Homo sapiens: one gene and its partners. The protein of the gene in region 3 interacts with the protein of the main gene of each other region in a biochemical or structural test. Each region holds a gene or a part of one and is shown on either strand. Other genes may lie near its edges. The genes, in order: RNF20, RNF40, KIF11 and PPARG.

The links.
Region 1: the proteins of KIF11 (region 3) and RNF20 form a complex in vitro, tested with the Homo sapiens proteins (one study listed by BioGRID).
Region 2: the proteins of KIF11 (region 3) and RNF40 form a complex in vitro, tested with the Homo sapiens proteins (one study listed by BioGRID).
Region 4: the proteins of KIF11 (region 3) and PPARG interact in a test that uses a peptide from one of them, tested with the Homo sapiens proteins (one study listed by BioGRID).

Annotation. Positions count from the first base shown.
Region 1 is NC_000009.12:101,550,853-101,557,879, reverse strand, and holds part of RNF20 (E3 ubiquitin-protein ligase BRE1A), read right to left. Parts: intron 6,197-7,027; coding exon 6,061-6,196; intron 5,740-6,060; coding exon 5,618-5,739; intron 5,498-5,617; coding exon 5,127-5,497; intron 3,893-5,126; coding exon 3,775-3,892; intron 3,187-3,774; coding exon 3,037-3,186; intron 497-3,036; coding exon 284-496; intron 1-283. UniProt on the Homo sapiens protein: Component of the RNF20/40 E3 ubiquitin-protein ligase complex that mediates monoubiquitination of 'Lys-120' of histone H2B (H2BK120ub1).
Region 2 is NC_000016.10:30,765,320-30,772,346, reverse strand, and holds part of RNF40 (E3 ubiquitin-protein ligase BRE1B), read right to left. Parts: coding exon 7,020-7,027; intron 6,923-7,019; coding exon 6,848-6,922; intron 6,185-6,847; coding exon 6,065-6,184; intron 5,969-6,064; coding exon 5,789-5,968; intron 5,607-5,788; coding exon 5,471-5,606; intron 4,454-5,470; coding exon 4,332-4,453; intron 4,245-4,331; coding exon 3,817-4,244; intron 3,729-3,816; coding exon 3,611-3,728; intron 3,510-3,610; coding exon 3,360-3,509; intron 3,162-3,359; coding exon 2,949-3,161; intron 2,873-2,948; coding exon 2,747-2,872; intron 515-2,746; coding exon 374-514; intron 259-373; coding exon 157-258; intron 1-156.
Region 3 is NC_000010.11:92,645,129-92,652,155, reverse strand, and holds part of KIF11 (kinesin-like protein KIF11), read right to left. Parts: intron 6,794-7,027; coding exon 6,514-6,793; intron 3,945-6,513; coding exon 3,722-3,944; intron 2,322-3,721; coding exon 2,170-2,321; intron 1,756-2,169; coding exon 1,639-1,755; intron 1-1,638. UniProt on the Homo sapiens protein: Motor protein required for establishing a bipolar spindle and thus contributing to chromosome congression during mitosis. Required in non-mitotic cells for transport of secretory proteins from the Golgi complex to the cell surface.
Region 4 is NC_000003.12:12,376,066-12,383,092, forward strand, and holds part of PPARG (peroxisome proliferator-activated receptor gamma), read left to right. Parts: intron 1-3,638; coding exon of another isoform or gene 3,639-3,646; coding exon 3,647-3,866; intron 3,867-5,256; coding exon 5,257-5,426; intron 5,427-7,027. UniProt on the Homo sapiens protein: Nuclear receptor that binds peroxisome proliferators such as hypolipidemic drugs and fatty acids.

The DNA of each region.
Region 1 (7,027 bases), on a different chromosome or scaffold from region 3:
CATATACTTTAACGCAAAAAGGATAACAAAACACGTCACTTGATTTTATTTCAGACATGTTTCCATATTAGCAGATCCATATTTGACAAGTACACTGTACTCTTTTGTAGGAATAACAGTAGAGATGTATAATTTATTTACCAATACCCTAATGATGAACATTTAGTTTTCAAATTTTTTTCCAATCACAAAAATGTGCCACAATAATCATTCTTTTACTTATATCATCATGTAGAAAGCACCCTATTTCAACAGAATAGAAAGCTCTACTCATCCTAATTACCTGAGTCTTCAGAGTCAACACCTGGTCTGCCAGCTCCTCCTTCTCTTCTTTAAGCAACTTATGGATCTGATTGGACTTGATACGCTCTGACATGAGCTTGAAATTTGCATCATCCTTCTCCCGCAATTGCTGCATCAAACGGATATTTTGCTCCTGCATGTCTTCAAAGGCCTGGCCTGTGACATCCATTTCAGAGAGGAGTGCTTCTTCTTCCTAAAGGATGAAGGAAGAGATTTGATTTTAGAAGAATCTTCCAACTTCAATGGAAGAGCACAGGAAACTAAATTTTCCCACTGTTCATTTAGATATAAATTAATTTAGTGACAGAGTTTTAAGAAGTTGTGTTTTGTCACTAGGCATACAGAAGCTCTATTATCTGAAGTCACTGGCACCAATTGTTGGTCTGATACTTATTAGTTGATCTGTACTCAACGTCAGTTAAATTAGACAATAATTGTATTTACCTTAATCTAGACAAACGGATCAAGCAGCAATTGGTTAAGAGTACTTCCATCATAACCTCTCACATTTTCTCATGCTTTTCCACAATTAAAATACTGGATCTACAGGATTTCCAGCAGTTGCAAACATCTAAAGCCTTGTAACAATCTGATAGGTGAAGACTGGTATCTAATAATAGCTTTACTTTATATCTATCTCATTTTAAGTGAGACTGAGCATCTTTTCATATGGTTAAGACCACTTGTATTCTTTCCATAACCAACTCATTTCTTTTGCCTATTCTTCCACTGGATTCTTGAGTTTTTTTCCCTATTTTGGAGAGTTTTTTTTGTATCAGATAAGCCTTCTTTGTAATAAAAGTTAAAAATATTTTTTACTTTTTGTCATTTAATCTTTTGGCTTTGCTAACAGTGTTTTTTGCAGTGTAGAAGTTTTGCATCATTTTAAAAAATAACTCAAAATTATCAATTTTTTGTTCATGTTTTCTAGCCTTTTATTCATAGAAAGGTCTCCACTCCAAATTATAAAGGAATTTAATGGTTTTCTTCTAGCTTTTTGATGGATGCATTTTTTAAAATATCATATCTATGATCCATTTGGAAATCATCCTAGTGTATTCAAGTATGTATCTAACTTTTCTCTAACATTATTTTTTTTAATTTTGTCCCATCACATGTCACAGTTTTTCTTTTCCCCACTGATTTAAAACTATGTATTTAGCACATAATAAGTATCATGTGTACTTTCAACTACTTCTCAAGTTTCTATTCAGTTCTAATAGCCTGTCTAGTAGTCCCAAGCTATTTCATCTACAGAAACTTTATGTTTTAATATATGGAAGAGACCCCAGTGCTGTTCTTTTTCAATTTCTCTTGTTACTCTTGTTTACTTCTCCACATGTACTTTAAAACCAGTTCTTCTAGTACCAAAATAAACAAAAGCAAAACTTAAAAAAAGCACTTTTATGAGATCACATTATATTAATACATAAACTTAGAAAGACTGAACATTTTTAAGATAGTCATCGTATACAAGAACATAGTGTCTTTCTTTTTACTTGTTCTAGAACCTATAATAGTATAATTTCCTGATAATTACCTTAAGAGAGAGGGAAGAAAAAAAAAAGTGGCATTTACCAGATTTAAGAAAAGTCAAAATTACACTTTTTTTTTTTTTGAGATGGAGTTTTGCTCTTGTTGCCCAGGCTGGAGTGCAATGGCGCCATCTCGGCTCACTGCAACCTCCACTCCTGGGTTCCAGCAATTCTCCTGCCTCAGCCTCCCAAGTAGCTGGGATTACAGGCATGCGCCACCAAGCCCAGCTAATTTTGTTTTTTTTTTTTTTTAATAGTGATGGGGTTTCTCCATGTTGGTCAGGCTGGTCTTGAACTCCCGACTTCAGGTGATCCATCCACCTCGGCCTCCCAAAGTGCTGGGATTACAGGCATGAGCCACCGCGCCCAGCCCAAAATTACACTTGTTAACAAAAGGAATGTGTATAGGATCTAATGAAGTTCTTCTTTTCAAGGCACTTCATGATCAACTTACCATTAAACCTACTCCATCTCACTGTTATTTTGCTATTTCTTAGAAACAATGAAGGTGTACTAACAGAGAATACATATATGGTTTTTTCAAGCATTTTCAGTATCTTTATTATTGAATTTTAATAAAAATTCCCTGGCATTTAAAAATACATACATATTCATTATAAGGAGGAGAACAATCTCTATAGTTCTATGACCCCAAAATAGCCATAGTTAACATACTGCTTAATCAATGTTATTATATTGGTTAATAGATTATATCCTTATTATATATAAATCACATATTTATAAGCATAGTTTTTCTGTGTAGTATATGTACTACATAGAAATATATAATGATATATATTTATAAGCATAGTTTTCTTAGTTTCATATATTTGTAATCATAATGTATATAAAATCTTATGTCTTATTTTTCATTTTATATTCACTATAACCCTTAATTCCAGGTCAGCAAAGAAAGACTAGATCTTCAATAACTGTCTGAACAACAGCAGAGAAAGACTAGATCTTCAATAAATGTCCATTTAAATAAAAGTAAATTTCTTGCCTCACAAATACACAAAACAAAATAACAGAAAGATAAAAGACTTGAAGGTAAGAATTAAAACACACACACAAAAAGGAAAAATACACATTAACAATCAAAAAAAGACCAAAATAAAAAAGCAAATTTCACTGGCAATAACTTATTGTCAAGTAACATTTACTCAAAAAGTCAATTAAATAAAGAAAGTGAGTCCACCTGCTTGGCCATGGCTAGCTTCTTCTGTAGGTATTCTATCTGCTCCTCCACTGCCCGGATCTTCCTCAAGGCATCCTCATCAGCCATTTTCTTGTTCTCTTTCTTCTCTTTATCTTCCAGATCCTTGAGTCTTTGCCTTAGATCTTCCAACTATAAGAGGAAAGGAATTGCACAAAAATAAAAAGTTATAACACATTTTCAAAAATCAATTAATACTGTGCAAAGATAGAAGGTTCATAATACCAAAAGAGTCTTTACAGAATTATAGAACAAGGTACATAATATACTAAAACATTACATAACACCATCTGTTTTAACATCACTCCATTCTACTATGACATGCTTCTATAAGCAACACTTTTGAGAAGTGCACAGGTAACTTTCTTTAGAATAGTGGTTCCCATCCTTTTTTTTAGGCCTCAAAATTTTAAGAGCATAAGACATTCCTCCCAAAAGTAATGAAAAAGATTATCCCTGTAGCAATGAATTACATAGGAAAAACAAGGAATACATACTTTGGAAAGCCTACTCATAACCCCAGTAATTCAGATATATTTTACCATCCTATGGAGAGTTTTAAAATCTCTACTTCAGATGGTCTTTGAAAAGGCAGAAAATGTTGCACTTAAACACTTATTTTAAAGATAAAGAAAGAAATTATATCGTTGGCAAGTATAAAGGAAAATCCCACAAATGAAGATTTTAACCAGAAGGACAGGTAATAGCAGACTAGAATACCTCTGCCTTAGACTTCTTCTCAGCTGCCATCAGCTGAACTTTGTCTCTCTGTTCCTTTGGGGCAGAACGGTACATATCCAGCAATAGTTTCATCTCCTTTTGGCTCTCCTGTGCCTTCCTATGACAGGCGTAGTAGAGGGAGGGGAACAATGTAATAAGAAAATAAAGGTCATCAGAGCAAGGGAATTTTGATTGAGCAGAATATTTTAAAACAGTTTCATTTTACATTTCATATCACACCTAAAAGATAAAATTTTGCACAGACTATCAAAAGACTTTTGGATATGCTTAGAAAGTACAGAAAAGTAAGCTGTATAAAAATGAATCATTTCTCCCTTCAAAGTCCTCTAACAAAGTTATAAAACAGACATTTGTGTACTTGTTATATAGGCAAATTTCTGTGGCCCCCAACCCTGGGTAACTGAGATTCAGTAGGTCTGGGGATGGAGTTCAAAAATTTAAACAAGTGATTTAAACAAGTCACTCAGATGATTCTGATACCACACCAGAAAAAAAAAAAATTGCCTTAAAGAGTTCAAGAGGGAGAAATAAAAGGGAAAAATTTGAAAGTCTGAGATATACTGTTAATCCTAGATTTGACAGCTGAGTGATTAACCATCAGCCAAAGACTAAAACTTCACCTCTTATTAAATTACTAAACCTCTTAACTATACTTTTATATACCAAAAGAGTTCAAGCATTTTGAGCACAGTGGTCTCTCAAGTCCAAACATCAACAAAGGATCAACCATAGAAAGTAAGGAGCAAGAAGTAAGCCGTTCTGCCAGAGAAGTTATTGGTTATACAGGAGAAGGGCCAATGCATAAGGTTATGACACAGAAAAATTCAACAAGTTAAAGGTCTATCTTAGTGTGTCAATGTGTATAGGAGTAAATCTCCTAAGAAAGATATGGCATATTCACAAACCAGTTAACTCTCAGGCAAATAGATCAGATATTGTTCAAGTTACAGTGATATATAAATACTCCACTTAATATCATTTAAATTACAATTAACGCCAGCAATCTGCTCAAATCCAGTGAAGAGCAGTAGTTAATTCCCAATAATTCTCAGAAGTATTACCTCAATCATGACATCCTTTTCCTTAATTTGGATTCATAAAAATAAGGCTACCATCATCGGTTTGCTGATACTCGATCACTGAACCAAAGTACTAAATAGCCATGCAAGCCATTTTGGCTGTGCACTTGAACACGACTTGAAACCAAATTAATTGTACAATCTAAAACATTAAAACGATCAGACAAGCCATGCCATCAACCAAACATTTCATGCATGATGTCTTAATCTTAGCTTTTCAGTCGAAACTGTTACTCTAAATGTGGTTCTTACTTGAGTTCAATCTTCAATTGTTTGATAATTTCTGCTTCCTTTTTCCGTCCATCATCATGTTTGCCTTTCTCTTTATCCTTAGCAGAATCTCTCTCTTTTTCTGACTCTTTTAGCTTCTGCTTCTCTCGTTCTCTCTCCTTCTCCTTCTCCCGTTCTCTTTCTCGTTCCCTCTCCTTCTCCCTCCTTTCTCGTTCTCGTTCTTCTTCATCCCGTTTAGACTTGATTTCATTGGCATCCTCCTGAGATGCCTTTGAAGCTGAGGACTGGGAGGATAAGTCCTCAGAATCTGGTTTTAGCTCCGCAGGCTCATCCTTCGGGTCCTCAGTACTAGACTGGGACTGCAGGAGGGCACTACCACTACGCAGGCGTGTCTGGGAGAATAAAGAAAAGAAAGATGCACATCTCTTATGATAACCACATTGCCGACCTCATTCAAAAGCAGCTTTACGACATTAATAGCAAATGATATTTATTCTATTCCCTCTGGTTACCTTGTTCAGGTCAGACTGGGCTTCTCTCAATTTCCGCTTATATCTCAGGACCTCCCCTTTCAGCTGGTGATTGTGATTCTGGAGGCTACTGATGAGGTGGCGCATCTCCCTGTTTATAGGGCCTTAAATACAGGAACAACAATGTTATGAGGAACCGTGGTAAGGGCAAAGGCACAAGGAGAGAAAGAACAGAACACATCAGGAGGCACTGAGAAATAGGGAGAATTACCAAATAAAAGATTCCTTCTCAGAAGATGAAAACAAAACTGGTCAACTTGAGTTAAAAAACAAACATCCAGGCTGTGAACCAAAATGAATTATAGGATTTAAGGTACTTATGACTTCTGAGTTGAAGTCAGCATTAACAAACCCTGGGGTCTGTGTTGTATCTTTCAAGGAAGGTATTAAGAGCAAACTACAGCATGGAGTGAGAATCATTATACCTGCTTGTTCATTGGCAGCAAGGGTCTGCTCAAATTCTATCCTCAGCATTTCATACTCCTTGCGGACCTGGGCCAATGTATCTTCTAGCTGAATTACTTCAGTCCTCAGCTTCTTATGAAGACTAACCTCATCTCGCTACACACAGATAAAGGAACCAATAAAAAAATTCTTATTAAAATGTAGAAATATCATCATATTCTATGGATTACTCTGAAAATTTCCAGTTCAATCTATACGTAATGAAACCAGATATCTACAAAAGACTAATTTGGAAACTGACAGGATACTGAAAAATAAAGAAAATGGCCACCAATTCTGAGAATATTAGAATTTAGTTGGAGAACTAAACTATAAAACAGTATATAAACATATGTAAAATAGTATTCAATTCATTTGTCAGGCATATATTAAAAGACCAACTATTATAACCATTACCTTAAAAACTATGGAAGATACAGAAATGAACATATGAATAAAAGTTTCTATCTTTTAAAAAAATCATCTACTGGTGCCATTATATGCTTTTTGTTTAAGAAATGTAAGTAATTTTGCAGCTTCTACCCACTATTTTCTCACATACACGTAAGCTCTAGCCATATTAAACTATTTCTCATGCTCTCTCATACCTTTATATGTGCTGTTCTCATGCCGGGAATTCTTCTTCTCCTACTTTCAACTACCAATAATTTATCCTTAATATTTATACCTTACTTTTTTAAGTGGAATCAGGAAACTTCCACAGTCAAATCAGACACTCTTTTCTCATGTATCACATCTTTTGGCTATGCTGCCATTGTACCACATTGCATTCTAATGGATACTATTCTCCCATTACTGCAGACTACAAGATCTGTGAGGGCAGGAATTTTGTCATCTCATCTTTATATGCCCAGTACCTACCAGAGTAAAGACCTACTGCCACTCTATGAATGACAGCTGAATGAATGAGAGATTAATTGCACATGA
Region 2 (7,027 bases), on a different chromosome or scaffold from region 3:
ATGTACAGCAAACAGCATTTGACTCTGTGACCACTGTGCTGCCCACTTTCTGCTGCCCTACATTACTTCCAGGGTCCCCAGACTCTCCACTAGTCTCAGCAATCCTGCATCTACAATTCTCAGGTGGATAGGGCACAACTTGGCCCACAGCCCCACCTTGTACTCCTTGATCTCCTCCTGGAGGATTTCGTCGGCATCTGCGTAGACCTCCACCTTCCTCTGCTTTTCCAGCTTGCGCCGCAGCCGTGAGATGTCCTCCTGGGGCAGGAGAGGCCTGGCTAAGGGCAAGGGTCCTCAACCTTGAGCCGCTTGCCCCCAGGATAGGTCCGTGACCGTGGACCACCCTGGCCTGGCCCCTCACCCCTGCACACACCTGAGCCCTCTTGAGGTTGAAGCTCTCTTTCTCACGAGCAGCCCGGCTCTCTGCCAGGCAGGGCTGGATCTCCCGCAGCCGAGTCTGCACGTGCTCCAGCTGCACCTTCAGGTCCTCGGCCAGCTGGGCGGCTTCTACAGCCTGAGTAGGGTGGAACAGGAAGGAGGCACTGGTCTGAGCCTGGTGACTCAGGCATGTGGAGTCACGGCCCACCAATGCTTCTGTCCAGGGCCCCAGTGACACCTGCCCTGGAGCTGCTCCTGCCTCCTGAGCCCTAAGCCCTCCCCTCCTGTTCTCCCTCTCCAGTTCCTCCCGTGTGATGCTGTTTTTTGGGGTTTCTTTGTTTTTTGTTTTTTTGAGACGGAGTCTTACTCTGTCCCCCACGCTGGAGTCCAGTGACACGATCTCAGCTCACTGCAACCTCCGACTCCTGGGTTCACACCATTCTCCTGCCTCAGCCTCCCGAGTAGCTGGGACTATAGGCGCCCACCACCACACCCAGCTAATTTTTTGTATTTTTAGTAGAGATGGGGTTTCACCGTGTTAGCCAGGATGGTCTAGATCTCCTGACCTCATGATCTGCCCGCCTCGGCCTCCCAAAGTGCTGGGATTACAGTCGTGAGCCACCACGCCTGGCCTGCTGTCTGGTTTTTGAGCTTTCACAAGGCTCTCCTCTCTGCTCCCCTCAACTTCCCCACCACACATGCAGCTCCCCTGGGCCTCAGCTCAAGTGTCACCTCCTAAAAGGCTCCCCTATTTTTCTTTGACAGCACCTCAGATTCCTGCACAAGGCTTACTGTGACATGCACTATTTTATTTGGGGGATTACTGGCCTGCTCTGCCTGCCAAGACCTGAAGTTCCAGCTTTGACTGGAAGGCAGGGACCTTCTTGTTCCCAATGTCTCCACAGCAATCAGCGCAAGGCCTAGTACATAGCAGGGATGTAAAATATGCTGCTTAAATGGGCCAAGCACAGTGGCTCACACTTGTAATCCCAACACTTTGGGAGGCCAAGGCGGGCAAATCACGATGTCAGGAGTTTGAGACCAGCCTGGCAAACACAGTGAAACCCCGTCTCTACTAAAAATACAAAAATTAGCTGGGCGAGGTGGCAGGCTCCTGTAGTCCCAGCTACTCGGGACACTAAGGCAGAAGAATCGCTTGAACCTGGGAGGCGGAGGTTGCAGTGAACTGAGACCGAGCCACTGTACTCCAGCCTGGGCAACAGAGCTAGACTCCGTCTAAAAAAAACAACAACAAAAAAACCACAAACATACTGCTTAAATGAATGAACTAACTGGAGAAGAAAACAGCTTCAGAGGAAATGGAAATCAATGTTAATCTTAAGCCTTTAGCCAAAGCTAGACATTTCTTCTATTTAATACAACTATGTGACAAAGAACATCATCCCCACTTTACAGTTCACCAGCGAGTGGTTAGAAGGTAGAGCCTGGAGTCAAGGAGGCTTGGACCCAAATATTAGGGCCACTCCCTCTTGAGCAGAACAATCCACCTCCCTGAGCCTCAGTTTCCTTATTTATAAAACGAGGCTAAAAACAAAATCCAGCCAGGTGCAGTGGCTCACGCTGTAACCCCAGCACTTTGGGAGGCCAATGTGGGTGGATCACAAGGTCAGGAGTTCGATACCAGCCTGGTCAACATGGCGAAACCCTGTCTCTACTAAAAAAAAATACAAAAATTAGCCAGGCGTGGTGGTGCGCGCCTGTAATCCCAGCTACTTGAGAGGCTGAGGTTGGGAGAGTTGCTTGAACCTGGGAGGCGGAGGTTGCAGTGAGCCGAGATCGCACCACTGCACTCCAGCCCGGGCGACAGAACAAGACTCCAACTCAAAAATCTTTTGTTTTTTTTCCCTAGGGACAGAGTCTCGCTCTTGTCACCCAGACTGCAGTGCAGTGCGATCATAGCTCACTGCAGCCTCAACCTCCTGGGTTCAAGTGATCCTCTCACCTGTCAGCCTGCTCGAGAAGCTGGGACTACAGGCGTGCACCAGCACACCCAGCTAATTTTAAAATTTTTTTGTAGAGATGGGGTCTCACTATGTTGCCCAGGCTGGTCTCCAACTCCTGGCCTCAAGCAAACCTCCCGCCTCTGTTTCCCAAAGTGTTGGGATCACAGACGTGAGCCACCACGCCCGTAAACACCATCTTGATAGGATTAGTGAGACTGAAATGTGACCAAGCATGTCAAGTACTCAGCATGTGGTCTGGCACATGTAAATGTTCAATATGTGTGAGCTGTTCTGTGACAGCCTGGCTTCACCTCAGGCTATTGCATCGGGTGCTCTGAGCAGAACCGGAAGGTGAGGAGGTGAGCCAGCAGCCCAAGCTGTGTGTCCCCCTGGCCCAGCCTCACCTTCCGCTTGTTGAGCTCCAGGGCTTGGCTGCGCAGCGTCAGCTCCTTCTCCACACCCCCGAGGCTGCCCTGCAAGGCTCGCTCCTTCTCCTCTAGCTTCTGCACAGTCAGCAGCTGGGCATCCACCTAAGGACCAGAGGAGGACTCAGGGCCATGACCCCCACCTCTCCAGCTCCAGTCTGCAAGCTGGCGGCGGCCATACCTGGGACTTGAGGCCAAGGACCTGCTCGCCCAACTCATCCTTCTCCTCCCGCAGCAGCTTGTGAATCTGGTTGGCCTTGATCCGCTCTGACATTAGCTTAAAGTTGGCATCATCCTTTTCCCGCAACTGCTGTAGCAGCCGCCCGTTCTGTTCCTGCATGTCCTCAAAAGCCTGACCTGTCACATCCATCTCTGAGAGCAGAGCCTCCTCCTCCTGCAGCAAGTGGGCAGAGACAAGATGGAACGTGGGAAGTGGACAGGATGGCTGTGGGGGAACCATGGGAAAACGCAGCGAAGCAAAGAACTACAGAGGGGACCCAGATCATCAAGGTCCTGCAGGCACTAGAGGCACCAAACAGGGTATGAAGGGAACTCCCTGCGCTCCGACGCGAGGGCACCACATGGGCCGCACCTGCTTGGTGGCACCCAGCTTGCGCTGCAGGTGTTCTATCTGCTCCTCTGCCTGCCGAATGCGCCGCAGGGCATCCTCATCCGCGATCTTCTTGCTCTCCCTTCGATCCCTCTCCTCCAATTCCCGGATGCGGCTCCGCAGCTCATCAACCTATAGCACAGGGAAGAAGAAACTCTCTTGACACTGCTTCCTGCTGAGCTAGGACTCTGCTCTGCCTTTCTGAATGCCCCACAAGCCCCAGCTGCCCTCACCTCGGCCTTAGCCTTGCGTTCCGCTGCCATGAGCTGCACCTTATCCCGCTGCTCCTTGGGCGCTGACTTGTACATATCCAGCAGCAGTTTCATCTCCTTCTGGCTCTCCTGGGCCTTCCTGGCAAGAAGGTACAGGAGGAAGTCTTAGTGAGTGGGACTGGAGGCCACCTGGCAGGGTCAGGAAGGAGACAGGAACAGAGCCTCACTTGAGCTCTGCTCGGAGACCCTTGAGGAGTTCTGATTCCTTCCGCTTGGTTTCTTCCACCTTGGCCTTCTCCCGATCAGCCCTTGAGAGAGCGGAGGCTACAGGTGGAGGTCCTAGGCTGGGACCTTCCCGTTCCCGAAGCTCCCGCTTGGGCCTGGCCTCAGGTTCTCGGCCCCGGGAGGAAGGGCCCTGGGCCCCAGGGGTTATACCCTGGAAGTCCTCTTCAGAGGGGACCAGCTCCTCCTTCTTCACTGAAGTGGTAGTAGTGGTGGTGCCAGGCACTGGAGCCATCTCCTTTCTGTTGTCGGGGGTACTGACAGGGCCTGGCCCACCCTCCTCTTTCCCTGGGGCTGGGGCACTGACGCCAGAATCCTCTGGGTGGCCCAGGTTGGGGGTGGAGTGGGCAGAGCCACTGGCCTGGGCCCGGAGCTGCAAAGGCAGAGAGGAAGAGGGATGAAGTCAGATGGTGTTCACTGGAGTCTAGCCAAACCTTTTCCCAGGCAGGCCCCTTCTCACCTTGCCAATCTCAGCTTGTACTTCTCGAAGCTTCCGCTTGTATCGCTGGGCGTCCCCTTTTAGCTGGTGGTTGTGGTTTTGAAGACTACTAATCAGGTGGCGCATCTCACGGTTGATGGGCCCTGGAGGAGCATCAGCAAGTAAAGGTGTCAGAACCAGTTCCTGGGTTAGGACTCCAACCCCTCAGTGGGGTAAGAGGCTATGCCATCACTCCCACTGTGCAGGAGGGGAACATTGCGGCCTCAACGGAGCATGAACTCATCAAAGTAAATAATGCTGACTTCAAGGAAACTCACCCAAAATTAACTTGACACTGCCTATTCATACGATTTTTGCTAATATAGAATATGTGGGGTTTTTTGTTTTTTTTTTAAATAGAAACAGTGTCTCACTTTGTTGCCCTGGCTGGTCTCAAATTCCTGGCCTCAAGTGATCCTCCCACCTTGGCCTCCGAAAGTGCTGGGATTACAGACATGAATCACCACACCTGGCCTAGGTTTTTTCTTTTTTTTTTTTATACATCCAATTCCCTTTAATAGAGAAGGTAACTGTAACATTCACAAAAGTTAGTTAACTTCTTCTAGATTCTTAAATATCACCTTCCCAGTACATTTCCCTGGCCTCCTATTCAAAATTGCAACACCCTTTCTCCTGATACTTCCTATCTTCCTTTTCTGCTTTACTTTCCTATCTGTCAAGAGCTAACACATTTTCCATTTTTCTTCTACTAGTTCGTCTTCCTCTAGTCTGTCTTCTATCAGAATGTTGCTCCACATGGCAGGAATTCTGTTTTGTTCACTGGCATAACCCCAAACCCTAGAACAGAGCCTGGCTCAGAGGTGGCATTTGATAAATCTTTGTAACACAAGTATCTGAGAGACAGAGACGTCATCAGACCAGAAGAATGAGGACAGGGCTGACAGCTCAGACTCTGCATGTGCCTGCTCCATCAGCCACCCCAGCTGGCGGACCCTCACTGTGCCTGGGAGCCAAGCAGTGCAGGCCCTGTTTTGCATAGGAAGCCGAGGCTCTGTGAAAAAAAAGGCCTTAGCCTCTTGCATCTGGATAAGCAGCAGCCCCACACCAGGGCCCAGCACTCCCAGATAAGGCCCCACCTCCGCCCTATCCTCACCACATACCCGCCTGCTCGTTGGCCGCCAGATTCTGCTCAAACTCGATGCGCAGCATCTCATACTCCTTGCGTACCTGGGCCAGCGTGTCCTCCAGCTGAATGACCTCTGTGCGTAGCTTCTTCTGCAGCCCCAGCTCGTCGCTCTGTGGGTTGATGTGTTAAGGACCCACACAGCCCCTCGGTCCCACCTCAGGACTCAGTATCTTAGGAAGAATCTATTCCCCAGGGACCCCTGGCTGGCACACAGGGCCTCGGAAGGCACAAACACGTCAACACTAACGGTTTGGCCCTTAGCCCAGCCCTAACGCCTGTTCCAGGGCCATACCTCCATGTGCTCGATGTGTCGCAGGTGGGAGTTCTTTGTGGCCAGCAGCAGGCCCCGAGCCTCGTCTAGCTGGGTCTTCACTTGCAGAGACTCGTTGTAGAGCAGTGAGAATTGGGCCTGCAGCATGCGGTACTCCCCCGTCTCCCGCACTACCTCCTCAGGAAGGCTCCGCAGGGCCACCTGGGGCAGGGATGCCCAAATGGGATCAGCAACAGGATTCAGGGCTCAGTCCCTCCCTTACAGGCCCAGGACCTCTCAGCCCCTACAGCAGCCCACCTTGAGGCGCTCATTGGTCCGCACAGCCCCCTGAAGTTCGGCCTGCAGTTTCTCCAGCTCTGCCATACGGCTGTTGGCCAGTTCCTGGTTTTCCTCTAACTCTGCATTCAGCATCTCAAACTAAGGAGTGGGAGGCAGGGCCATGGGAGGCAGGGCCAGACGTGGCAGCAGGCCTCCCTTACATCCCCAGCATACACTCCACCCCAAGCACCCCGTGCAGGGCAATGATCGATTCTGACACCCCAAACCAAGTACTTTCCTAAGGGCTCCCAGAAAAATGGGAGAAAATTCAATACTGCATGGTCGGTGCTGGGAACTAAGGCTCTTAACTGATGGGGAGTCACGGAAGGCATTCCAGAAAGGCCTAAAGTGCTAATAAAGGGAAAAAGGGCACAGTGACCACCAGATGCCAACTGACTCCAACTCACTCTTAGCTCTCTCTTCTGTGCTTTATCTTTGTGGTACTCATAACACACTGATATGCTATTTTACTGATTTCTTGTCTGTTACCACAAGTAGAACCTAAAGATATATTCTTTTATTTATTTCTTGTCTGGTCCATGAAAGTTTTGACCTCTATTTTGTTCTCGCCAATATGCCTAGTGCCTAGCACTAAGTGTTCAAAAATCTACTCAACAAGTATATGAATGCATGAAAAAAAGAGCAGCAGGAGTGACCAGGAAGGGCCTCAGAGATGGATGTTTGTCCTTTGTCCTGAGGGGAATTTCAAGAGTGCAACAGAGAAGAGGTTGTGAGAAGGGGTGGGAGGAAAACGCCGCTCACCTTCTGCATGCTGAGTGTGATCTGGCCCCCCTGGAAGCCTGAGGAGCTCCCAGATACATAGTAGCCAGAGTTAAGCTGTGGAGAGAAAACAGACAGGCAATGGATGTAGAGGGGAGGAGCTAAGGCCCAAGGGCCCAGCCTTGCCTCACCTGCCCCAGCACCCCTGCCCCACCTGCTCTA
Region 3 (7,027 bases):
AAACAAAAAAACAAAACAAGACATACACACAAAAAAGGTACAAGCAGCCAGGCGCAGTGGTTCATGCCTGTAATCCTAGCATTTTGGGAGGCTGAGGTAGGAGGGCTGCTTGAGGCCAAGAGTTCAAGACCAGTCTGGCCAACATAGCAAGACCCTCTCTCTATATATATTTAAAAAAAAAAAAAAAAAAAAAAGGTACAAGCATATGCATCTCAGAAGTAGAACTTCAACTGTAAATGTAGATACCAATGTCCTACGTAAGGAAATTTTTCCTTCACACACTCTGTCTAGGCTTGTACCCTCAAATTAGAGGAAAAGATACCAGCACTTTATAGAGCCTCACTTGGAAGTTGTATTTCATTGGAATCCTCCTACTTACCCATAGAGAACATTAAGGGACTGGTGACATTGATTGTGTACTCAGTCATCAATGCTGAGATGAATCATAAACCAACTATGTTCTCAACAGTGTTAAAAAGTGGGTAGGAGGGGCCGGGCCGGTGGCTCACACCTGTAATCCCAGCACTACGGGAGGCCGAGGCAGGCAGATCACCTGAAGTTGGGAGTTCGAGACCAGCCTGACCAACACAGAGAAACCCCCTCTACTAAAAAAAAAAAAAAAAAAAAAAAAAAAAAAAAAAAAAAAAACAAAATTAGCCAGGCATGGTGGCACATGCCTGTAATCCTGGCTACTCGGGAGGCTGAGGCAGGAGAATCACTTGAACCCAGGAGGTGGAAGTTGCGGTGAGCCAAGATCGTGCCATTGCACTCCAGCCTGGGAAACAAGAGCGAAGCTCCGTCTCAAAAGAAAAAAAAAAGTGGGTAGAGGGCTGGGCACAGTGGCTCACGCCTGTAATCCCAGCACTTTGGGAGGCCGAGGAGGGTAGATAACTTGAGGTCAGGAGTTTGAGACCAGCCTGGCCCACATAGTGAAACCCTGTCTCTACTAAAAATACAAAAAAATTAGCCAGGTGTGGTGGTGCATGCCTGTAATCCTAGCTACCCGGGAGGCTGAGTCAGGAGAATCACTTGAACTCAGGAGGCGGAGGTTAAGTGAGCCAAGATCGTGCCACTCCACTTCAGCCTGGGTGACTCAGTCTCAAAAAAAAAAGAAGAGTGGGTAGGAGAGGTCACAGGATTTAATTACACTGGATTAGAGCAGGCAAGGTGCTCAGGAAACATGGGGCAACAGTTTACAAGAGAAGAGCCTCAGGCAGGAGAAATCACTAATATAACCTAAGAGGCCTCCAGTCTCTCAATCTTTTCAATCACTTTGCCTTCAAAGTCTGATTATGGGCAGAGATAGGTTCCAAGACTTACATGTCAAAGGTAGAAGGAAGAGAAATGACTGCTCTCAGTGTCTGAGTATATAGCAAGCAGAAAAGGAATAAATACAATAGCTAAAGATTATCAGCTAAGGATGTAGATTAAGTCAAATTCTGCCTTCATTTATTCTACAGAAAACCCCTTATCAATATCAGATTTTTGTAAATAATTCAAATCATAAGCGTTAACAAGCCATCCTAAGGAATAATTGAAAGGTTTTTGTTGTTCTGCTCACCACGAACAATACCTTTATAATGAATAGTAAATGAATGACTTACATCAGATGTGGAAGGGTTATCTGATATGACATACCTGGAAAAATGGAACCCCGCCAATTGATGAACAATCCACACCAGCATCTACAGATGGCTCTTGACTTAGAGGTTCTTCAGTATACTGCCCCAGAACTGCCTCTTCTACATCCACATCCTAAAAGAAGAAACTGGATGAGTGACTAAGTCCAAGGGCTTAAAAGTCATCACAAGAGTAACAGCAGCTTTGAGTATAACACAATGCCCATGGTATAATATAAAAGTTAAACCTCAACAAAATTATTAGAAAGTCTACAAATTAATGAAAATAATTCCTAATATATTTTTATAGAGAGTAGAGGTTCCTATATAACAATGTTACTAAGCACAATATTAAGTATTGGCTATTATTATCTACTAGCATAATTTAAAAACTAGTAAGATTAAAAGAAACAAGCCTAAGGGCTAGGCCTATCATTAATGAGAGGCGGGGTAAGATTGAGGGGTAAACAGTAAAATTCTTCACATGAAGTCAGCCACATCAAGAGTTCATAAAAGAGTTCTATTATAAAATATGATCCTTTAAATTTACCGGAATTGTCTCTTCTTTGTTGTTTTCTGAACAGTTTAGCATCATTAACAGCTCAGGCTGTTTCCTTTTCAGCTGATCAAGGAGATGTTCACGTGGTTCAGTTCTTACCAGTGTTGATGGGTATAAATAACTTTTCCTCTGTGGTGTCGTACCTTTAACGGACATTAGATAAGAGGTAAAAATTAAAGTATGAGATGTAAATATTTTTAAAAAAACCTAAAACTTCCTAATTAATCTTGTCTTCTAAAAATATAAAAATATAATTGCCATATATGAGGATCAGTCTTGCTACCTGTCAGACATTGTTTGCAACTAACAATACTTTCTAATTTGATGACAGACTTTACTGTTTTCAAGATTCATCCTACTCTCTAAAACATGAAGTTTACCATCTCTGAGGATATATAAAAGATGTGTTATAAGCTCTAAAAGGAGTTATAGTGTTCTGAAAAAAATGGCAGCATTATTGGAATGAGTAGATTTCCCAACATGATTACTTTGATAGGAGTAATCATTTCACTATAAATGTGGTGTGGTGGTTAAATATTAACTAGTTATATACATATACTATGTTGCCCAGGCTGGTCTTGAACCCCTGGGCTCAAACGATCCTCCTGCCTTGCCTCCCGAAGTGCTGGGATTATAGGTGTGAGCCACCGCATCAGGCCCCCAGTTATATTTCTCTGTAATAAGCTCATGCTCTCATGATTTACAAAAGTACTTGCCTTTTCACTCAACATTTACATTCCTAACTTCATTGAAAAGTAGACAGTAAATCCTACAGGTCTCTTGGGGAATAAATAAACCAACATTCTATGTAGCACCATCCCCTTTTAACAATTGCTTTTTAAATTAAAAAAAAAAAAGAGTTTTGTGATATAATTTACATACCATAAAACACTCATTTTATGTGTACAATTCAGTGGATTTTAGTGAGTTTACAGGGTGTGCAACCATTACCATAATCCAATGAAGAACCCAATTATTCATGCTGTGTAAAACAGCTTGTTACATCTCTTCCATGAAGACCTCCCTGAATCATTACAGCCTATAATGATCTTTGCCATATGTGATCTCTCAAAATGTTGATTCCTAAATGCTAATGGTCCATGGTGATCCCTGATCTCTTAAAACAGGGATTCCTAAATGGCAATAGTCTATGACAAAATGAGAGGGACACAGAACAAAATGCACAATGTGGTAAACTTTGCATTAAACTAGATTTAGTCAGTTACATCTCTCCCATATTTGTGGTATTAAAATGTCCTTTTACAAACAGTGCTAGGTTTGTATTTGTTTTAAAAAATCCCCTATTAACAAAGTCAACTCCCTGAAAGTATGTGAAATTATACTGAATTGTGATACCACCTGTATCATGACACTTGATTAAAACTATTTTAAGGTTCCAGTTTTCCCATTTTGAGTTGATTACAGTGAGATGTTAAATTTCTGTCAGGCAATGGCAGGACCTAATTTTTCTGAACATCTGACACTACATAGAGTTGAATTCGACTTCAAAAAATTTAACAATTCTATTTCTCTTTTAAAGTACCTGTTGGGATATCCAGTTTCAGATCCTGTTCCAGAAAGCAATTAAGCTTAGTCAAACCAATTTTTATGGTTTCATTAAGTTCTAGATTTTGTGCTATCAATTTATCTTCATCAATAGTCATCTGATCAAGAAAAATGTTATGCTGTTTCTCATGAGCTGCCTTACGTCCATCTGATTTCTCAGTGATGTCTGAACTTGAAGCCTCACAACATTGGCTTACAACCTGTAAATGATGCAAATAAATATTTATTACTAAAATTAAAGTTGCCAGTGTTTTATTCAACATCATATTTTCCCTTACCTTTTCCATAATTTTTTTTTTTTTTGGAGACAAGTCTCACTCTGTTGCCCAGGCTGGAGTGCAGTGGCATGAGTAGTGCTCACTACAGCCTTGACCTCCCAGGCTCAAGCCATCCTCCCACCTCAGCCTCCCAGGTAGCTGGGACTACAGGCATGTACCACCATGCCTGGCTAATTTTTGTATTTTTTGAAGAGATGGCATTTCACCATGTTGCCCAAGCTGGTCTCAAACTCCTGGGCTCAAGCAATCTGCCCACCTTGACCTCCAAAGATTACAGGCATGAGCCACCACACCTGGCCTTCAGTAATAAAAGATTTAAAAACACATACAAAAGTAGAGAGAACAGTATAATTAACTCCCTTGTATTCATTACCCAGCTTCAACATTTACCAACAAGTGGAGTACAGACATTTACCAACAGGACTGGCCACTCAACTCCTCCATAAACCCAGGATTATTTTGAAACAAATCCTGTATCATTTCATCCATTTACTTCAGCATGTATCTCTAAGAGGTAAGAGCACTTTAAGACCACTATCACATCTAAAAAGGTTAACACTGATTCCTTCCTATCAAATGTCTAGTCCATGTTCAAACTTCACCAGTCGTCTCAAATGTGTGTCACAATTGCTTTGTTTGAACCAGAATTCACCACTAGATTTGGTTCATAGGTCTTAAGTCGGTGACTATATAATTTATCATCCAAATTGGGACACCTTTTGGAGTGAAAGGGCCCATTCTTAATAATCATTCTAATACAACAATATCAACAAGGACTGTCTCAGGCAAACTAAGACTTAAGGACCTCTAGTCTTAAGTCTCTTTTGATATACAGGTTATTGTTTCTCATATTTTTTCCCTTGAAAAAAAAAACTTGTTGCTGAAGACATGAGGTCTTTACCCCATTGAACATCTCAAATTCTGGATTTGGTCAACTGCATTTCTATGCTTTATTTTCTACAAACTGGTTAGACCTAAAGGCTTGATTTAATTCAGGTTTAATTTTTTAGCAAGAGTATTTCATAGGTAGTACTGCAAGCACAAAATGCTTTGCTGTGTCTCTCATGTTAAGATTTATCAGTGAGTTCAGGTATGGTTAGCCTATTAATTATAAAGTTCCCCAACAGCTTTTGATCAAATGGTTTAAGCCATCATTAACATCCACAGGGGTTATTTTATTAAGAGTTGCATACTGGTGATATATTAATTCTATCATTTCTTCTCCATTTTATTAGCTTAGAGTCTAATGAAACACTTTTCTTCATTACCCTGCTAAACCAAGATATGGTTCTTTTAGGAAAGACAGATGGATGCTAAATTTTTTCTTCTTCTTTACCCATTTTCAGGACAATGTGTTGCTTCCCTAGCATGATCCAAAGGAGACCTATGAAATTTTTATGAGTTCGTAAGTTTTAATATATTTGATATGTTTTAATCCATTATGGCCATTATTCTTTTTGATGCTCAAATTATGCCACCTTTGAAGATGGGGAGGTTGGCTACTAAGACCTTTTGACAACCTCAGAAATCTTTAACAGCTTCCTTACTCTCTGGTATGACAAGATCTCTAGGCTCATATATTATACATTTCCTATCACAAATCTGAAATTAGCTATTTGTATACAAACTCTAGTTCCTTTTAGTGAAAACAGCTTATATAGATTAAAAATTTTAATTCTTTGTACCTACTTCCTGAGAATGTTAGTAAAATCCTATTAATGCAAAGAAAGAAAAAACCAAGTTACAAAGGGCTCATGCAAGCGTTAAGTTCAAGCAAATCCATAAACCTATCAAGTATCCTTTAGTTACCAGAACAATAACCTAAATACTTAAAATAATAATAGGTTTGAATGTACTTGGAGAAAAGTAAAAAGCAAAGATAGGCCGGGCGCAGTGGCTCATGCCTGTAATCCCAGCACTTTGGGAGGCCGAGGCGGGTGGATCATGAGGTCAGGAGTTTGACACCAGCCTGGCCAATATAGTGAAACCCCATCTCTACTAAAAATACAAAAAAATTAGCCGGGTGTGGTGGCAGGTGCCTATAATCCCAACTACTCGAGAGGCTGAGGCAGGAGAATCGCTTGAACTTGGGAGGCGGAGGTTGCAGTGAGCTGAGATCGTGCCATTGCACTCCAGCCTGGGCAACAGAGTGAGACTCCATCTCAAAAAAAAAAAAAAAAAAAGCATATATAAGTGGAAGGTATTACATATCAAAAGACAGGGTGCCCTTCTTTGAAGAAACTACTAAGTCAGAAACCAAGGATAAATACAGGAAAGAAACTGTACAAATGTTAAATTAATTCCAAGATTGAGAAGACATATAACAAAGCACAAAACGAGATCATCTGTAAGCATACCAAATATTATACTTAAAAGTTTAAGTCATTATAGCTTAAAATATCATTTGTTTTGAAATCTATTCTTAGCCAAGAATATTTAACTTTCTGATTATTATTCTCCCCAAAGTAAGTTCCACTTACAAAGTTATTACCTCCAATAAGTTGTGAAGTTCCTGTTCCCTTTCATTTAAGGAAGATACCCACTGTTCAGAAAAATAAACTGTTCTTGTGTTCAGAGATTCACATCTCTGTTCAGTCTCTTGAGATATTTTTTCCAGGTTGCCATTGAGTTTATCAGAGTGTTTCACAGATTCTTCAACCAATTTTGTACCTTCTTGGTTAAAATTTCTGAGTTCCTGTGAGAAGCCATCAGAATCAGCACAAAATTTTTGACTGTGAAAAGTCATTTTGTTGACTATATCCTTAGATTTCCTATAGGAAAAGAGAATGACACTGTTGAAATGGGGAATTAAGACTCAAAGGATATATAACTTCCCAAGATCACTCAGCTCTTAAGTGGCAGATCTGAACGTGGACAGTCTGGCTCCAGGGCCCGTGATCTTAGTAAATCTTCTGCATTGAGAATGGATGCCTTGGCCACTGTCTTTTCACAGCATTGCCATTAAATGACCTTTGAAAGGATCATCTTTGCTCATGAAACCTTTC
Region 4 (7,027 bases), on a different chromosome or scaffold from region 3:
CAGCTTCCCGAGTAGCTGGGATCACAGGCATGCACCACCATGACCAGCTAATTTTGTATTTTTAGCAGAGATGGGGTTTCTCCATGTTGATCAGGCTGGTCTCGAACTCCTGACCTCAGGTGATCCACCCTCTTTGGCCTCCCAAAGTGCTGGAATTACAGGTGTGAGCCACCGCACCCGGCCTCAGGGCATTTTTTCTTATGAAGATGACAGCCGAAATCTTCAATCTTCAACTCATGCAAAAGTTTGCCTTTGGAGTGAATTTCTTGGCAATCTGCTTGGTAAGAAAAAGCAAGTGGTGTTAAAGTGAGAGCATTAAAATAAAATTGCTCCAAAAAAATGATAAATAAATAAAAGAAAAGAAAAAGGAAAAGCAAGAGGCCCATGCACAGATACACAGAGGAGAGTGGCCCCTCCTCCATAAGCCTGTTTCATCAATGAGAGAATCAAGAGAGTATGTATATACAGAAGAGAGTTTCAGGGTCAGTCTTGAGTTTGCATCTTCTACTTCCTAGCTAGAGGACCTTGAACAATTCACTTTACTTCTTTGGTCCTAGCTTGCTTATCTATAAAGTGGGAATAATATTTCAGATTATGCAGAAGAAAAGGTAGGATGTACCGGGCACATGGGAAGTGCTTGATCAATACCAATTTGCTTCCCTCCTTCCCTGCCCCTTCTGCTGAAACTTCACAGCTATCTCATTAAGTCATCAATGTATTTAGTATTTAATAAATAAATATTTAACGAGCACCTACTATGAGACAAGCCCTTTGTTAGCCAGTGGGGATATGACTGCAAACAAGAAAGATACGCCTATGATTTGATGAATCCTGGAGTTTATGAGCAGCTCATCTCTGTCTCCCGTGTGAGCAGTCCTAAATTTACACAGCTCTCCACTGGTGTTTTTGACCACAGAGTTAACATTTAAAATACCTATGACTGCTTTTTTGGCACCACTTTGAATAATGAACTGGTGTCAGGTAAACAGAGTCCAGGTACCTATTGCAGAAAGTTTTCCAGTCTGCACCCTCGGTGGCTCACAAGTTCACATGAAGTGAACCAAAAGAGTTTTGTTGCACTTACTGTGACAATAAATCATGTTTAGAAAAATGCATGTGGCATACATGATATTGGGCAAATGATTCATGAAACTTGCTATTCTGTGGCCTTAGAATCCATGTAAGCATTTTTCCTTTGTCTTTTATGTGTTTTCTTGTTTCTATCTCTGTTTTGTTTTGTTTTTGTTTTGGGGATGGTTTAAAATTAATGCTGGGCTAGAGTCTGATTTTGACACTCTCGGGTGTGATCAAATGTTTCCACATATCTCTCTAACCTTTCTATTCTCAATGTGGGGAAAACTTTCTCCGCTTTAAGAAAAGGTGTATCCACAGAAAAGATTATTGAGTAATTTTTCATAGTACAGAAGTAATAATTGAGTGATTTTTCCCTTTAAAATTTTTTTATTTTTGTATTATTTTAAGAACAAAATTATTTTAGGATGCAATTAAAGAAGAAGTTCATTTACCTAAATTTAATTTGCCAACTTTTCTATTACACAAAAGCATTATAAATACAAGTAGAATAGCAAAAATTTCATCCTAAAGAGAAAAATATTTTGGGCTTCTAATTTCAAGAGAGTAAAATTGTCCTGGAACCCTGTGCACACTTTAAAAACAATCATTAACAGATTGCATCAAACTAGAAACTTCTTCACCACAAAGGAAATAATCAATAAAGTGAAAAGCCAGCCTACAGAATAGGGGAATCTGTACATCTGATATGAAGTTATGGATTGCAAATCGTACATCTGATATGGAATTAATATTCCAAAATATGTAAGAAACTCAACAAACTCAATTGCAAGAAAACAAATAACCCAGTTAAAAAATGATAAAGGAATATCCATTTCTAGAAAGAAGACATACAAGTGGCCAACAGATATATGAAAAGGTACTCACCATCACTAATCATCAGGGAAATGCAAATCAAAACCACGGTGAGATATCATCTCACACCCATTAGAATGGCTGTTATCAAAAACACAGAAGATAAGAAGTGTTGGCAAGGATGTGGATAAGAGGGAACCCTTGTACACTGTTGGCAGGAATGTAAATTGGTATAGTCATTATGGAAAACAGAATGGACTGCCTCAAAAAATTAAAAATAGAACTAGCATATGATCTAGCAATCCTACTTCTGGGTATATATCCAAGGGAAATGGAATCAGTATGTTGAAGAGCTATCTGCTCTCCCATGTTCACTGCAGCATTATTCGCAATAGCCAAGATATGAAATCAACCTAAGTGTCAATGGATGAATGGATTTTTGAAAACACAGTATATATCTGTATATATATACACACATACATATATACACATACAGATGTATATGTACACACCCAATAGAATATTATTCAGCCTTAAAAAGAGAAGGAAATCCTGTCATTTGCGACAACAGAGATGAACCTAGAGGACGTTATGCTAAGAGAATTAAACTGGGTGGTATTTGACACAGAAAGACAAATACCACATGATCCACGTGGAATCTAAAAAAGTCGAACTCATAAAAGCAGTGAGTAAAATGGTGGTTGCCAGGAGCTGGAGGGTGAGAGCAATGGGGAGATATCAGCCAGAGTTTCAGTTATGCAGGATAAGCTCTGGTCACCTTCTAAGGTGATCATCTGCTAAGTATAGGTCACCTTCAGCATGGTGACTATAGTTAGTGATACTGTATGGTATATTTGAAATTTGCTAAGACAGTAGATGTTAAGTGTTCTCACTACACATATTCATACTCAAAAAGGTAACTGTGAAGTGATGAATATGTTCATTACCTTGATTATGATAATCATTTCATAGTAAATACGTATATTAAAACATCACATTGAATACCTTAAGTGTTTTGTTTGTTTTTTGGTTTTTTGGGTTTTTTTGTTTTGTTTTGGTTTAGGTTTTTTTTGAGGTGGAGTCTTGCTCTGTCACCCAGGCTGGAGTGCAGTGGTGTGATCTCACCTTACTGCTACCTCTGCCTCCCAGGTTCAAGTGATTCTCCTGTCTCAGTCTCCCAAGTAGCTGGGATTACAGGCGTGCTACCACACCCGGCCAATTTTTGTATTTTTAGTAGAGATGAGGTTTCACCATGTTGGCCAGGCTGGTCTCGAACTCCTGACCTCAGGTGATCCTCCTGCCTCCGCCTCCCAAAGTGCTGGGATTACAGGTGTGAGCCACTGTGCCTGGCCTGTATACCTTAAGTTTAAAAATTTTTGTCTATTATACTCAATAAAGCTGGACAAAATTTTAAATAAATAACAGCAGTCATTAACAGACTCAATTGATGACCTAATGTAGAAGTTAATGAGAGCAGGCCTGTTGGCAAAAAGGCATTTATATGGATACACTGTATGTATCTGCACTGTTTCAGGATCCTCTATTATGATACCTGGGTAAAGGGTGACTTCCTTTCTATCATAAAACAGCCTAGACAGCACTAAGAAGGTGGTTATGTTCTTTTCTGTTGTTGTGAGCGCCCAGATGAGATTACTTTGCCAAAGACTCTTTTCATTTCTCTTTCTGAAACTCTGTGAGATTGCTGTGTTCTCTAGGACTTAACTTCACAGCTAGTCTATTTTTCCTTTCAGAAATGACCATGGTTGACACAGAGATGCCATTCTGGCCCACCAACTTTGGGATCAGCTCCGTGGATCTCTCCGTAATGGAAGACCACTCCCACTCCTTTGATATCAAGCCCTTCACTACTGTTGACTTCTCCAGCATTTCTACTCCACATTACGAAGACATTCCATTCACAAGAACAGATCCAGTGGTTGCAGATTACAAGTATGACCTGAAACTTCAAGAGTACCAAAGTATGATGTTTATTTTCACTTTTCAGACTACTAGGACTAGAATTGGACTCATCTCTCAGTAACCCTGTAATAAATAATGCTCCAGAGACTAGAAATCTAATAGAGAAGGCATTCACCATTCATTTATTCACCCATTTATCCATGAAATATTAGGTATCTATGAAATGCCAGGAAGGGAGCTGGCACGAGGTCAATCTTGCCTTCCCCGCCCCCTCCTTCCTTCCTCTCTTCTTTCCTTTCTTGCTTACTTCCTTCTTAGGGACATTTTCTACCTTGATTACACTGTCAGTTGTATCTCAGGCTAAGAGTCCATCATCCAAACTTTGAATTATTTTGGCCCCTTATAAGTTAATAAGTAACAATTCCAAGTCACTTTGTATTATATAACTTATCTTCACTATATTACTGCTACTACAGTACATTTTTTCTAGTATGTCCTTTCAGGAGTTTATACTGAAACCTACTTTTAAGCACAAATTTGTTTTAACATTGTAGCCTATTGATAAATTTTCATGCCATTAACTAAATCAACATCAAAACATCAGACTCAAGAAAAACTAGAACTGCACTTTTTGAGATAAAATGTATTTCTGTGATGCTATTTCCTTGATTTTTATCATGTGTGGGCTGACATGCTGGTTTTCCAAAGCCACCACTATGTAATTGGCAATCATTACTTGACAAGTAAGAACTTCCTGTATTTCTAGTGGCTTTTAAAGATAAATAATATGCTTAGTTATATTTATCTATGCGGTTTTCAGTTAGAGCCTAATATGGAAATTTAGTAGCCCTGAGCCCAACTAGTAAAAGGTAGGGCTTACTTCCATAAGTTCCGCCACGCTCTGTCAAAGATTATTTCACAAACCACCTCCTTTGACTGAACACTAATGGTAACCTGGGCTCATATTTTTCATGCACCTCAAGCTAGGCATACCATGACCTTTTCACAGTGGTGTTCCTTCTGTGGTTCTTTTGCAAGTTGTTTCAAAGTACTTATAAAATGGAATATTTAAATAAAATGTATAATTTAATATTGTGATGAATACCAAAGACAGAACATTTCCTAGCAAAATAAGCTTCCTTGTCTCAAATCCTCTATGTTGTCTGTTACAGCTGTAGTATTGCAGGCTACTGGGGGTCATAGAACCACAGACTTAATTCTCATTCCCATTTTATATTTACAGGTGAGGCTTAGAGATGTTATAACTTGCCTGTGATTACAAACCTTTCTTTTTCTTGCCTTAACTCCAGTGTTTTTTCATGTTCCACTGTGCTTTTACACTGAAACAATACAAATACAGCATGAAGGTGTACTATGGTGGCTTGCCCTGTTGCCTTTTTAGGACTGTTTTCATGGGATAATTATCCTCTCACATGTCTCCATACACAGGTGCAATCAAAGTGGAGCCTGCATCTCCACCTTATTATTCTGAGAAGACTCAGCTCTACAATAAGCCTCATGAAGAGCCTTCCAACTCCCTCATGGCAATTGAATGTCGTGTCTGTGGAGATAAAGCTTCTGGATTTCACTATGGAGTTCATGCTTGTGAAGGATGCAAGGTAATTAAAAAAAAAGTCTTCAAAGAAATTGTTGAAACTTTATTATTTCATTTCAGCAGAACCCCTTTTTTAGGTGATACAATATATGAATTTTTTTTCTTCATGGAAGAGTATCTTGCTCTGTCACCCAGACCAGAGTGCAGTGGTGCTATCCTAGCACACTGCAGCCTTGAGCTTCTGGGCTCAAGTGATCCTCCCACCTCAGCCTCCCAAAGGATGATATAAGATTTGAAAGCCTAAGAAAGTGGATAAAAGTTGGGCTGCTTTGCCCCACATTTGTTTCTCCAAATTGATTCTTTGAGACACTGATCTAATTTAATCCTTGCATCTTGCAGATTTTTACAAAAAGGTGACTTCTCCAAGGTGTCATGGCAAGACAGTGATGACCTGGAACCAGGATGCAGATTTCCTGCATTCTCTAGTTGTTTATTTATTTATTTATTTATTTATTTTGCTATACCGTGTAATATTGTATAGACAGAAGATTTTACAGATTATTTATATATGCATATCTTTGGATCCCTAGAGCAATCCTATAAGATTGGACTTCTTTATGGCCACATTGCAGATGTAGAAATTACAGGTTAGTAAAACTTGCCAAGGTCATCCCTTAGTAAGTGGCAGACCGCAGTCTAGACCCTGACTCCTTAGGTGGTGTTGGCTCTCAAAGCAGTGCCTCATGTTTCCTTATTCCAGCATCAATGTGAGCCACATACACGGACAGGTAAGGAGGTATAACAGTGTGGGAAAGGAGATACTATTTATCCTCATCTCTTTCCTTTGTGAAAAGGGTATTTTGGAAAATTCAGACGTTTAGTAATTTATTGCTTAATTATTAAGAAAATATGTGAATCCACTCATATTTTGATATGCAGTCTTTTAAGATAATTTTAATATACACAATGCAAAAATAGTACTAATTTATTATATACGCATTGCACAGAATAAACTGTTCATAAATATTCACTTTATAAAATAAATACCTGCTTATTGGGCTTTTTATTCAACGTAAAGATACAGAACAACAGTTAGGAAAGTTTTAGGACATCTTGGTTCCTAAATGGATGGTGGGCCAAAAAAGGAAACTGATTTTTATTGAATTCTTACTACATGCCAAATACTGTATGAGGTAACGTTTTCATACATCAGTATTTAACCACATCCTACCCAGGTTTTCTCATCTATAAAATGATTGTGGCTGAGTGTGGTGGCTCACGCCTCTAATCCCAACACTTTGGGAGGCCAAGGCAGGAGGATCACTTGAGCCCAGGGGTTCAAGACCAGTCTGGGCAGCATAGTGAGACCCCATCCCTACAAAATTTTTAAAAAATTAACCAGGCATGGTGGCACATGCCTGTAGTCCTAGCTTCTTGGGAGGTTTAGGTAAGAGGATCCCTTGATCCCAGAAGTTCAAGGCTGCAGTGAGCTATGATCATACCACTGCACTCCAGCCTGGGTCACAAAAGCAAGACCCTAACTCCAAAAATAAATAAATAAATAAGTAAATAAATAAAATGACACTGAATTACATGATCTCTAAAGTCCCTTCAATTGAAACAGTTTTTACTCTAAAGGCAACCTAATACAGTGAAAAGGGACAA